3 linked regions of the Homo sapiens genome follow. The protein of the gene in region 2 purifies or fractionates together with the protein of the main gene of each other region. This does not show direct contact. Each region holds a gene or a part of one and is shown on either strand. Other genes may lie near its edges.

What was found.
Region 1: the proteins of DNAJB14 (region 2) and ST13 purify together in Homo sapiens (affinity purification with mass spectrometry, with the first as the bait; one large-scale study listed by BioGRID). This does not show direct contact.
Region 3: the proteins of DNAJB14 (region 2) and PLS3 purify together in Homo sapiens (affinity purification with mass spectrometry, with the first as the bait; one large-scale study listed by BioGRID). This does not show direct contact.

What each region holds. Positions count from the first base shown.
Region 1 is NC_000022.11:40,825,567-40,829,223, forward strand, and holds part of ST13 (hsc70-interacting protein), read right to left. Parts: intron 1,664-3,657; coding exon 1,530-1,663; intron 1,101-1,529; coding exon 972-1,100; 3' UTR 1-971. UniProt on the Homo sapiens protein: One HIP oligomer binds the ATPase domains of at least two HSC70 molecules dependent on activation of the HSC70 ATPase by HSP40. Stabilizes the ADP state of HSC70 that has a high affinity for substrate protein.
Region 2 is NC_000004.12:99,939,969-99,943,625, forward strand, and holds part of DNAJB14 (dnaJ homolog subfamily B member 14), read right to left. Parts: intron 1-3,657. UniProt on the Homo sapiens protein: Acts as a co-chaperone with HSPA8/Hsc70; required to promote protein folding and trafficking, prevent aggregation of client proteins, and promote unfolded proteins to endoplasmic reticulum-associated degradation (ERAD) pathway.
Region 3 is NC_000023.11:115,567,530-115,571,186, forward strand, and holds part of PLS3 (plastin-3), read left to right. Parts: intron 1-3,657. UniProt on the Homo sapiens protein: Actin-bundling protein.

The sequences.
Region 1 (3,657 bases), on a different chromosome or scaffold from region 2:
GTATTACATATTAAATTAAACTCAGCATTAAATATGCTTGTATAATTACGCTGTTAATGATGATAGCAGTGATGATGCCGGTGGAAAAAGCCTGTCTTTAGCTCAAGAAAAGTAAGGGAGACAAATGTAGCAAGCAGAAAGCAAACACAGATTTGGGCAATTTTTGACTAGGAAAGAGAATTTTAAGCATAGAAATATAAAAAGAAAAGTACTACCTTATTTCCCTTACGTGGAAATAATATGAAAAACACTTATTAGATATACTGGACAACAAGAGAACTAAGTACTCCAACTCTACTGCAGCATTACAAAAAAAACATCCCTTCACCACAGTGTAAGATTTAAGGGCAACCTGCCCAAGGATGCATGTTATATCAAACACAGCAAGATTGCTGCTGCCCTGCCAAGTACTTCCAATCCCTACCCAGGTCCTACTGAAATACGGGTGGTCCCAATTAGTTTTATTGAAATAAATCTTTAAAGAAAAAGATAAAGCATTTAAAAAGACAAGTCAAAATGCATCAGGAACCACATATCCAACACAAACTTTATCCTCAAATGAGTTATGTTTGCCTCGCACTAATAACTTTTATTTCACTCAGAGCAGTAATCTTCCATACATAAGTATATTCCCTGCCAATAATTCAAAGAAAAAAATCCAAAATGATTAGTAAAGAAAAATATAAGAATTAACAGGCCCTTTAAATTTGTTTTAAATATTTTGAAGATTTAAAAAGTGTTTAAAGTTTGTAATTCCTAGTAGGAAAACATTATCTGAATGAATACCCTAATGGCAAACCACTGTAAAATGCTTCAGCTGCATTTGGGGGAGAGGGGTAGGGATTATCTTCAAAGCACCCCAGCTCTCTTGATGAGAAGGTCAGAGGTACACTGGTTTGTATTATTGCGACATCCATAAGGTGATCTAGGTTGCTTTTCCTTCAGCAAGGGCTTTATTTATCAGAAGGACATTACGCTTGACCTCCAAATTTGGCTGACAATTTACTGATGAGATTCATAACCTTTGGGTTGCTCTGGTATTTTGACATATTTGCTGGGTTCTGAGCCACATCCTGGAAAGCCACCATAACTTCTGGATCCTGAAAAGAAAGGGTTCATTAGTATTTAAAAAGTGTCCTACTGGGTCAGTAAGTTTATTATCCTAAATTCCATCTCTTATTTAGACCTGTAATTTGGTGATAGTTAAGTTAAATGGGGTTTAGATGAGTGCTTGAAGTATCAAAATCAAGCTGAATTAAGTCATTTGAACTGTATGATGAAAAAAGCACAATTTTGATACAAAGAAAAGGACAACTGGATATAATTGCCGATTGCTAAGTATTTCCTAGTTTTAAAAATTTAAGTTACTCACTCTGCATAAAGAAAATAAATGTCACTCTTGCATAATTAGCTATTTGGTAACTGTGATAAATAAAAAATAGCTATGAGAGTAACCTTTGTCTCCACACAGAATTATGAAAGAATTGCCTTAATGATACAAAGTCCAAAGTTTTTCTTCCAAGTCTTACCTGCATGGCTGCAAGAACCTCTGGATCACTAAGAATTTCATTGAGTCCAGGCATTCCAGCCATTCCAGGCATGCCCCCTCCCATTCCAGGCATTCCTCCGGGAAAATTACCAGGCATTCCCCCAGGAAAGCCACCTGTAATAAAAAATGAATAGACACTAATCATACTCCCAAATATTCTGACACAGTATTTCATCCACAAAAAGTACAGGTTCAAAGAATATGGGTGCCACTAAGCACAAAGTAGTCTGAAGAGTCTGAAAATTCTAACCAGACTGCAACAAGACATAAGTTATAGCTTCTAATTATCTCTTTAAAAACAAGGCTGTAAATCAGACTTTGCTACCTCCTGGATTAACTTTTTTCTAGTAATAACACTGTTTTTTATTTTTGTTTGTTTTGAGACGGAGTCTTGCTCTGTCGCCCAGGCTAGAATGCAGTGGTGCCATCTTGGCTGACTGCCACCTCTGCCTCCCGGGTTTAAGCAATTCTCCTGCCTCAGCCTTCTGAGTAGTTGAGACTACAGGCACGCACCACTATGCCTAATTTTTATATTTTTATAAATATATTTTTTATTTTTATAAATATGTTTTATATTTTTATATCAAGTTGGCCGGGCCGCTCTTGAACTCCTGACCCCAGGTGACCTGCCTGCCTCCCTCAACCTCCCAAAGTGCTGGGATTACCGGTGTGAGCCACCATGCTCAGCAACTTTTTTCTAGTAATAACACTGTTAAAAAAGACTAATCTCGCCTTAAAAGCAAAGAGTCATCTAACAGTTCCTTAGATAATTATAAATTGTATAATTATCTTAGATTATAAAGCTAGTCATTTTGATCATCTTTCAACTCTCCATTCTTGAATATTTGTCTGTTTCAATTTAAAATTAATTCATACGAGTTTAGTTTAGGTTTTTGTTTCAACTATACTCTTCTAGCATAGATCTTCCTTCAGTTAAGGACGACCTTAAAAGGCTTATCTGTTGATTTTTCATTTCCATTTCAAATAAAATAAAAATTCTCTGAAAGTGAAACTGGAAACCTGGATTTTTAACAAGAATTCCTGGTGCTTCTTTACAGAGAATAATGCTCTAGCAAAAAGGATTTTATTCTCTCAGTATAATTTGTTCGATTATAAACCCAAATAATCTACTCTGTTCTTCAATATCATAAACCTGTATGTCTACTGGAGATATTCTAAAATTACAATTAATAATATAGAGAAAGATGGCTGGGCGTGGTGGCTCAAGCCTATAATCCCAGCACTTTGGGAGGCCGAGGCGGGCAGATCACGAGGTCAGGAGATCGAGACCATCCTGGCTAACACGGTGAAACCCCGTCTCTACTAAAAATACAAAAAAAAAAAAAAATTAGCCGGGCGTGGTGGCAGGCGCCTGTAGTCCCAGCTACTCGGGAGGCTGAGGCAGGAGAATGGCGTGAACCCGGCAGGCGGAGCTTGCAGTGAGCCAAGATCACGCCACTGCACTCCAGCCTGGGCGACAGAGCGAGGCTCTGTCTCAATAATAAAAAAAAAAATAATATAGAGAAAGACAACATTAATGTATTCTACAAAGGGTCACTGTAAGTAAAGCCGTTTTAAAGAAGGAAACACATGATAAAGTCATTTTTACCTGCTTCCACAGTTAATTAAAATATGGCCATTAATAACTAACAATCAGAGATGAAGAAATCTAAGGGGACCATAAAACAACTTCTAGTTTCTCTTGCTGCCCCTACTTATCCCAAAGCTTTGAAAAATTAGTGCCTACCCGTAACGAAATTACTGACCCAAAGCTTGTCAAATCTAAATAAAATGTACATAACAGAAAATTCTCTCTAGTACTAGCCCAACATTAGCAGTCACTTTCTAAAACAAAGATATCTGACAATAAGATTATTTATATTTTACATAGGAAGTAAACTATGAGCTAAATTTAATTTCTTGCTTTTTCTTCAAACAGCAGGTCATCCTCAATATTTGTTCTAGGTTTGTTTTCTGTTGCTGTGCACATACTCTTTCAGAATAAAGGCTAGATTTTCTAGCATCGGATCATGCAACTAAGTTCTAACCAGTGACATATAAGCATACGTAGCCTCTAAAAACTTTCCTTAAGAGAAAGCTAGTTACCA
Region 2 (3,657 bases):
ATCCAATCTTATTTTATGCATTTACCTTCCAGACGTACTGCTCTACTAGGAGTTTTAACATAATCTGCATGTAATTTAGTATATTCCATATTAAAGACCAATGAAAAAGTTAATATAGAATTTAAAATATTTATGTTGATAATCCAAAAAGGAAGAACTGAGATCTATTTTTATTCTTAAGTTTCTGTTGCACTCCTATATAATGTCCACCATTAGCTGAATTGAATATCAGAACACATGATTTGAAAAACAAATAGATTTTTTCTTTTTCACAAAATACAAATAGCTTTTATTTGTGTGATTATACAAACATGTATGTTCAGCTCATTAAAAAACATAACAGGCCAGGCGTGGTGGCTCATGCTTGTAATCCCAGCACTTTGGGAGGCTGAGGCAGGTGGATCACTTGAGGTCAGGAGTTTGAAACCAGCCTGGTCAACATGGTGAAACCCCGTCTCTACTAAAAACACAAAAATAAGCTGGTGTCGTGACACACGCCTGTAGTCCTAGCTACTCGGAGGCTGAGGCAAGATAATCGCTTGAACCCAGGAGGCGGAGGTTGCGGTGAGCTGAGATTGTGCCACTGCACTCCAGCCTGGGCGACAGAACGAGACACTGTCTCAAAAATAAATAAATAAATAAAATAACAAAGTAAAAATCACTTATAAATCCCCTTCCAACCCTCCCCCAAATCCCCCCCAAAAAATCACTATAGCCTTTTGGTTACTCTAGTTAGCTAGCTGTCTAGCTTTTTAGACATTATTAAATTAAAAAAATATAATAATCTACCTGTTTTTAGCTTAATTTTCTTCAATTGTTGACATATTAGAGATATCACCTTATAGCAATAAACACAGGTCCATGTCATCATTTTTAATAGGTGCATAATTTATGAATGCAATGAATTTAATCAGTTTCCACTAATGGACATTTATACGCTTTCCAAATTTTTGCTACAGAGACAATCCCTATATATATATATATTTTTTTTTTGGAACACTTGGGCTGATTATAGAAAAGCTTCATTTGTGAATATATTAATATAGAAGGCCTTATGGCTATAATATTTTCATTTAGTTATTTATTTAACAAATTATCTTTATTGAAGAGAGTAAAATTAAATAAACAGCTATCATTCCAGAAAATCCAGGCCCATAGATGTCACAAATATATGTAAAATACTGTTAGGCATCATGGGAGTAAAAAAGATAATTAAGATTAAAATAGTTCCTGACCGCTAAGGTATTTTAAATGTAGGAGAGAGACAGCTATATACACAGGCAATGTAAGGGATGAAGTCAGCAAGGCAGAAGAACTAAATGTTAACTAAGCATGGAATGAGTAGTTGAATCCAAATTAATATTACTCCTAATTTAAAGCAATTATCTTATGCTCAAATAATTACTTTAACAAATGACAGAAGAGACAAACATACTATCAACTCCAAGGTACTATTCAAGTTTTTTCCTATAGAAATAATACATGACATGCTTACAGCACTTAAGATAATAAAATATCCTCACGATAAGCCTGCGAAGATTACAAATGAGAAAGCTGAGGCTCAGGAAAGGAAGAGGTAATGACAGAAATGGAATTATTGTGTCATATACCAGATAGATACTTCATGTTTCCCCTAGAAGGTAAGCTCCATGAGGACAAGGACTCTGTCTTACTATCCACTGAATTCCCAGTTCTTAGAATATTGTCTGGGACAGAAAAATGTATATTCAGTAAAAATTTGTTGAATAAATCAAACTCCATTTTATAGATGAGGAAATTGAGGTTCGGAAAGATTAAGCTATATATCCAAGGTCACATCATTATTAAATTAAGATTCAAACCCTGAATCAGTATTCTTTCTTCAACTGTAATATCTGAAATAATTTGGCTACTAGCTGAAATTTGGAAATCATTTTTGTAACACTTCAGTTGGTGCTATAGAAATAATTGTTTTGAATGTATAATTTGTACTTGTCACTAAATTTCAATTAAGTCAGAAACACAAAAGACTGAAATTATCTTAAAAAGAATATGTTGGATAATACTCCAGATGTATAATGACAATTTTAAAAGCTACTTTTTAAACCATTTTAAGTAAGACAAAAAGAGACAGAACTTTGTATTTTTTATTAGATATAAATTTTAAAATAATGTAGCAAAAAATTAGGAAGAAAAAGGACTGTTTAAATTGCTATTGTGCAGATAGATGCTGCAAATTATATACTATTCAATACATAATTTGGATTATCATACTTATCCGTTCATTACAGTAGATGAAGAATGGCCTTTTTTGAAGCTGTAAGCCACCAATTGATTCAAATTACTACAGTGTTCCTGAAAACAATAAAAATGCTTTTCTCTTAAAAAAAAAAATCTACAAACTATTTCCCAATTATTATGAAATTGCAATGCAAAGCATTAAAACAGATTGTACCCCTCTCTGAAAATCCAGAACATATCAATAACTCAATAAATGTACAGTTTATTCAGAAACTACAGTTACTGAGTTCTGCTTACTGACATTTTTTCTAGAATATTTATATTTTCTATGTGGTAGCTATTCATATATATCAATACTTTAAAATATTTGAAAGTTGTACAACTGAATTCACTTAGAAGTCCACTGCAATAAGTAAACTGTAAAATAATATTCTCAACTAAAAACATGGAAAGAAACAATATCCTAGATCCATTTGGGGATTAAGTTTTTTGTCAAGAAAAACTCTTGCCAATTTCTGAAAGTGTCTTATGTATCAGACTTCCTACCTGGCAAAAATAAAATTTTAAGAGGACAAAAATCCTGGAATCTAGCAGGAATTTAGTCTCATGTTTTACCATGTAAGAATAATGGAAATCAAAATGTGATCTTTTCTTTTGCCTCTCTTAGTTTAAGCATATCCAGACGAACATTCAGTCAACTTTCTGAGTTATAAGAATTTGGTGGTGGACTAGTATAAGTGAAATTCAGGGCTAAAATTTTAAAATCTAATTGTAACCAATAGCTTCGACTTCCTTCTATATGAAATATTTTATCAGGATCTCACACAAATGTCCTAGATCTTTCTCTCTCCTGAATTCTTAAATTGTACCAATAAACATCTTCTAGAATGTTCTATATAAAATACACTTCTCTGAGTACTGGCATATAACTTTATTTCAGCTCACATAAATCCTGTGATGACATCTTCACTTTACATATAACTAAAGAAGGCTCAGAGGAGTTAAGTAATTTGTCACTGGTGAAAAAGGAGTCAGAGAAAACATCTGCATCTGAACTAAGGTTTTTGGACTACACAGTTATCCCCTATCACTTTATTTGGTAATCACATACTGCCTTACATTTGTACTACCAACTTTCACCCTTACATTTCTTAATTTTTCCAACATTCATGTCCTTAAGAGCAACAAACTGTGTTGTGCTTTGGTATCTTATAATATCTTTTAGGAGATTTATTCAAATTGTTTGCATGACAGAAGCATGATAGTGTGTACATTTGGGTGGGTTTTAAGAATTCTCAGAGCTTCACACTTGTAAAATGGGGATGACACCAAAATTAATTGAGTGCTTACTGTTAAATGCTTTACCTGTATTAACCCATTTAATCCTCACAACAGCACTATGAGATCAGTACATTGTCTCCATTTTACAGACGAAAA
Region 3 (3,657 bases), on a different chromosome or scaffold from region 2:
ACAGTGAGCCGAGATTGCGCCATTGCACTCCAAGCCTGGGCTACCGAGTGAGACCCCATCTCAAAAGAAAAACAGAAAAACAAACAAACAAACAAAAAAAAACAGAAAATGTGGGAAGTTAAGTTGAAAAATAAACACCTTCAAAGCTATTAACTTGGATTTTCTTTTCTTTTCTTCTTCTTTTTTTTTTTTTTTTTTTTGAGTCAGGTTCTCACTCTGTCGCCCATTCATACTCTGTCCAGTTCATTGAAAATACAAGTCTGATTCCCTTGAGTTGTGATATTCATACACACACGAGTATATATACACTTATGTGTGCATATGTATATTATATAAAGTTTTACGTGATATATAATATAAGTTTTTACTTTCTGTAAAATAAAATTTGTTAGGGCCGTATAATAGTTTTGAATATTCATATTATTGTGTTCCACATTATAAGCTCTAATTACATCGTGTTGCACTCAGATTGACATTCTGCTGTTGACACTGAAAATAACGCTTTCATTCATAGATGAATGTAATTTTCAAGCTTTTTTTCTATATTTCTTAACTTGCTTGAATGTTCCCATTTTTGCCATTTCTTGTTGTTCATTTTAACATTTTGGGGCTTGTGTTTCAGATCAGGAAGAATCACCATTATAGGGTGCAAAGAGTTTGCTCAGAGGTGAAAATGATACGAAATTGTCCCTAGAGCACATCCTATTGCTATACTATTCAACATGTATGAATTAATCTACTGGGAAAGTGTCTTGTGTAGTGTGTACTTTAAAGATGTTTTCAATCACTTTGCTTTGGATTAGAAAAATTCAAGGTAACTATAATTTTAAATGCTCATATTTTTATGTTTATTTTATATGTAGGAAGAGAAATTTTTAAAAATTGGAATAACACTATATCCCATTCTTTTCATTTATTACATTATAAACATGTTTCCAAGTGATCAAATATTTTTAAAAATGTTTAAAATCACTGCAGTATATTTTATATAATGGCTGTTTCATAATTTATTTCACTAATTCCAAGTTGTTGAACATTTGTTTCCATATCTTACAGATAATGCTTCAGTAAGCATTCTTGATCGAACATCATTTTGCACTCTATCATTTTTTAGAAGTCACCAAGAATGTTTTAAAGATGAATTCCTTTGATAGTCCCTGAAATTTAAACATTGGCTTAAACAAAAAGATAGCCTTGATTTCAGTGGCATTTAAAAAAAGAAGGCTGGGCATGGTGGCTCAGGCCTGTAATCCCAATACTTTGGAAGGCCAAGGCAGGCAGATCACTTGAGGTCAGGAGTTCAAGACCAGCCTGGCCAACATGGCAAAACTCCGTCTCTACTAAAAATACAAAAAAACTAGCTGAGCATGGTGGCGCACGCCTGTAATCCCAGCTACTTGGGAGGCTAAGGCAGGAGAATCGCTTGAACCCAGGAGGTGAAGGTTGCAGTGAGCCAAGATTGCACCACTGCACTCCAGCCCGGGCAACAGAGCACGACTCCGTTTCAAAAAAAAAAAAAAAAAAAGAAGAAGAAAAAAGAAAAGGCCATTCTTTATATAGTGTATTGTATCATATGTGACTCTAAACTGGAACTTGTTTAGGTAAAGTATATGTCTTGGAAGTATTTTGGTTTTCTCTGATCTAGTTAGCAGGTGCAGAGCAGGATGAGGTAGGATTCTGTGCTGTGTACAATCATAGGAAGTTCTGTTTTTTGAAACGGAACTGTTAATGGGGGAAGGGAGACACGTTTGTTTTTAAGAAGCCTTTATGTTTAATATTATTATAAAACTCAGTTCAAGTATACAAAGCTTATTTGTGCCTATGAACATTCAGTATCCTAAAGAAACATTTAATCCTGGTGTTGGCTAAATGACTATTTGCTGATATGCCCTTTTATCTCAAGGCTATTAGTTTCTTAAAGTACTTTGATATCACTCAATAAACTACAGTTAAACTCAGAGTTTTACATTTCATTCAGGTTGCTTAAATAATATAACTAAACATAGGTCCAATAATAGTAAAAATTCTGATGCTGTCACTTAATTTGTGCCTGGTTTCAGTATATGGCGATTGCTTAAATTACAAGCACTTGAATTTACAAATATTTTGTGTATTTAAATGGCTCATTGTACATTACATATCCCTCCTGAAACTTAACCCATGCCATTTCACAGACCCTTCCATGGTGTTTTTCTCTTTCCTCCAGTTCACTAGCCTCACTCACCAAAGACTTTATTGGTCTGGGAATTCTATTATGACCCAGAAGTGACTTGGAAGGTTCCTTTCACCCAACAACACATTCTCACTACCTTTCTTTTCTTTTCAGGGGCATCATTTACATGCTATGTTGCACAGTCAGAATGGATTTTAGCATAAAGTATGGGTTCCAATAGCTCTCGCATTTTATTATTTATTTATTTGTTTAGAGACAGAGCCTCACCTTGTCGCCCAGGCTGGAGTACAGTGGCACAATCTCGGCTCACTGCAACCTCCATCCCCCAGGTTCAAGCGATTCTCCTGCCTCAGCCTTGTGAGTAGCTGGGATTATAGGCTCCTGCCACTGTGCCCGGCTAATTTTTGTATTTTTAGTAGAGATGGGGTTTCACCGTCTTGGCCAGGCTGGTCTTGAACTCTTGACCTCGTGATCCACCTGCGTTGGCCTCCCAAAGTGCTGGGATTACAGGCATGAGCCACCGCGCCTGGGCCAGCTCTCCCATTTTATATCTCTGTGGCATTGAGGAGGTTTCTTAACTCTCTGAACCTCAGTTACCCCATGAATAAAATGAAGATAATACACTCACTTTTCACTTTGTTCTCATAATTATTATATGAGAACACTTATAAAGCAACTAGCATATGGTAGGTGCTCAATAAGTATTTTCATTTACAGGTTGATTAATGTTGCCTTAGATGATTTTTGTCAGGCATCTATATCTACCTCTTTTTCTCTAATTTGAGTACCTTCCTACCTTCCTTTTTTTTTTTTTTTTTTTGGACAGAGTCTTGCTTTGTCGCCCAGGCTGGAGTGCAACTGTGCGATCTCAGCTCACTGCAACCTTGACTTCCCGGGGCTCAAGCGATCTCCGTGCCTCAGCCTCCCGAGTAGCTGGGATTACAGGCGTGTACTACCATGCCTGGCTAACTTTTTTTTGTAGTTTGTTTTTTAGTAGAGATGGGATTTCCCCATGTTGCCCAGGCTGGCAAGATTTTAGAAATTAGTGGGGTTTTTTGTGTTTTATTTAATGGTATTGGAAAAACACTCCTTTTATTGTTTTTCATTGTGAATGTGAAGGATTCTAGCCATGTTTCAGGTTGAAGAAGCTTCTTCGCTTAGCTCAGAAACCTGTTTATCGTTTAATTTATTCTTTTTTTTTTTTTTTTTTTGAAACGGAGTCTCACTGTGTCGTCCAGGCTGGAGTGCAGTGGCGCGATCTCAGCTCACTGCAACCTCCGCCTCCGGGTTCATGCGATTCTCCTGCCTCAGCCTCCCGAGTAGCAGGGACTACAGGTGCCCACCACCATGCCCTGCTAATTTTTTGTATTTTTAGTAGAGACGGGGTTTCACTGTGTTAGCCAGGATGGTCTTGATCTCCTAACCTCATGACCACCCACCTCGGCCTCCCAAAGTGTTGGGATTACAGGCGTGAGCCACTGAAC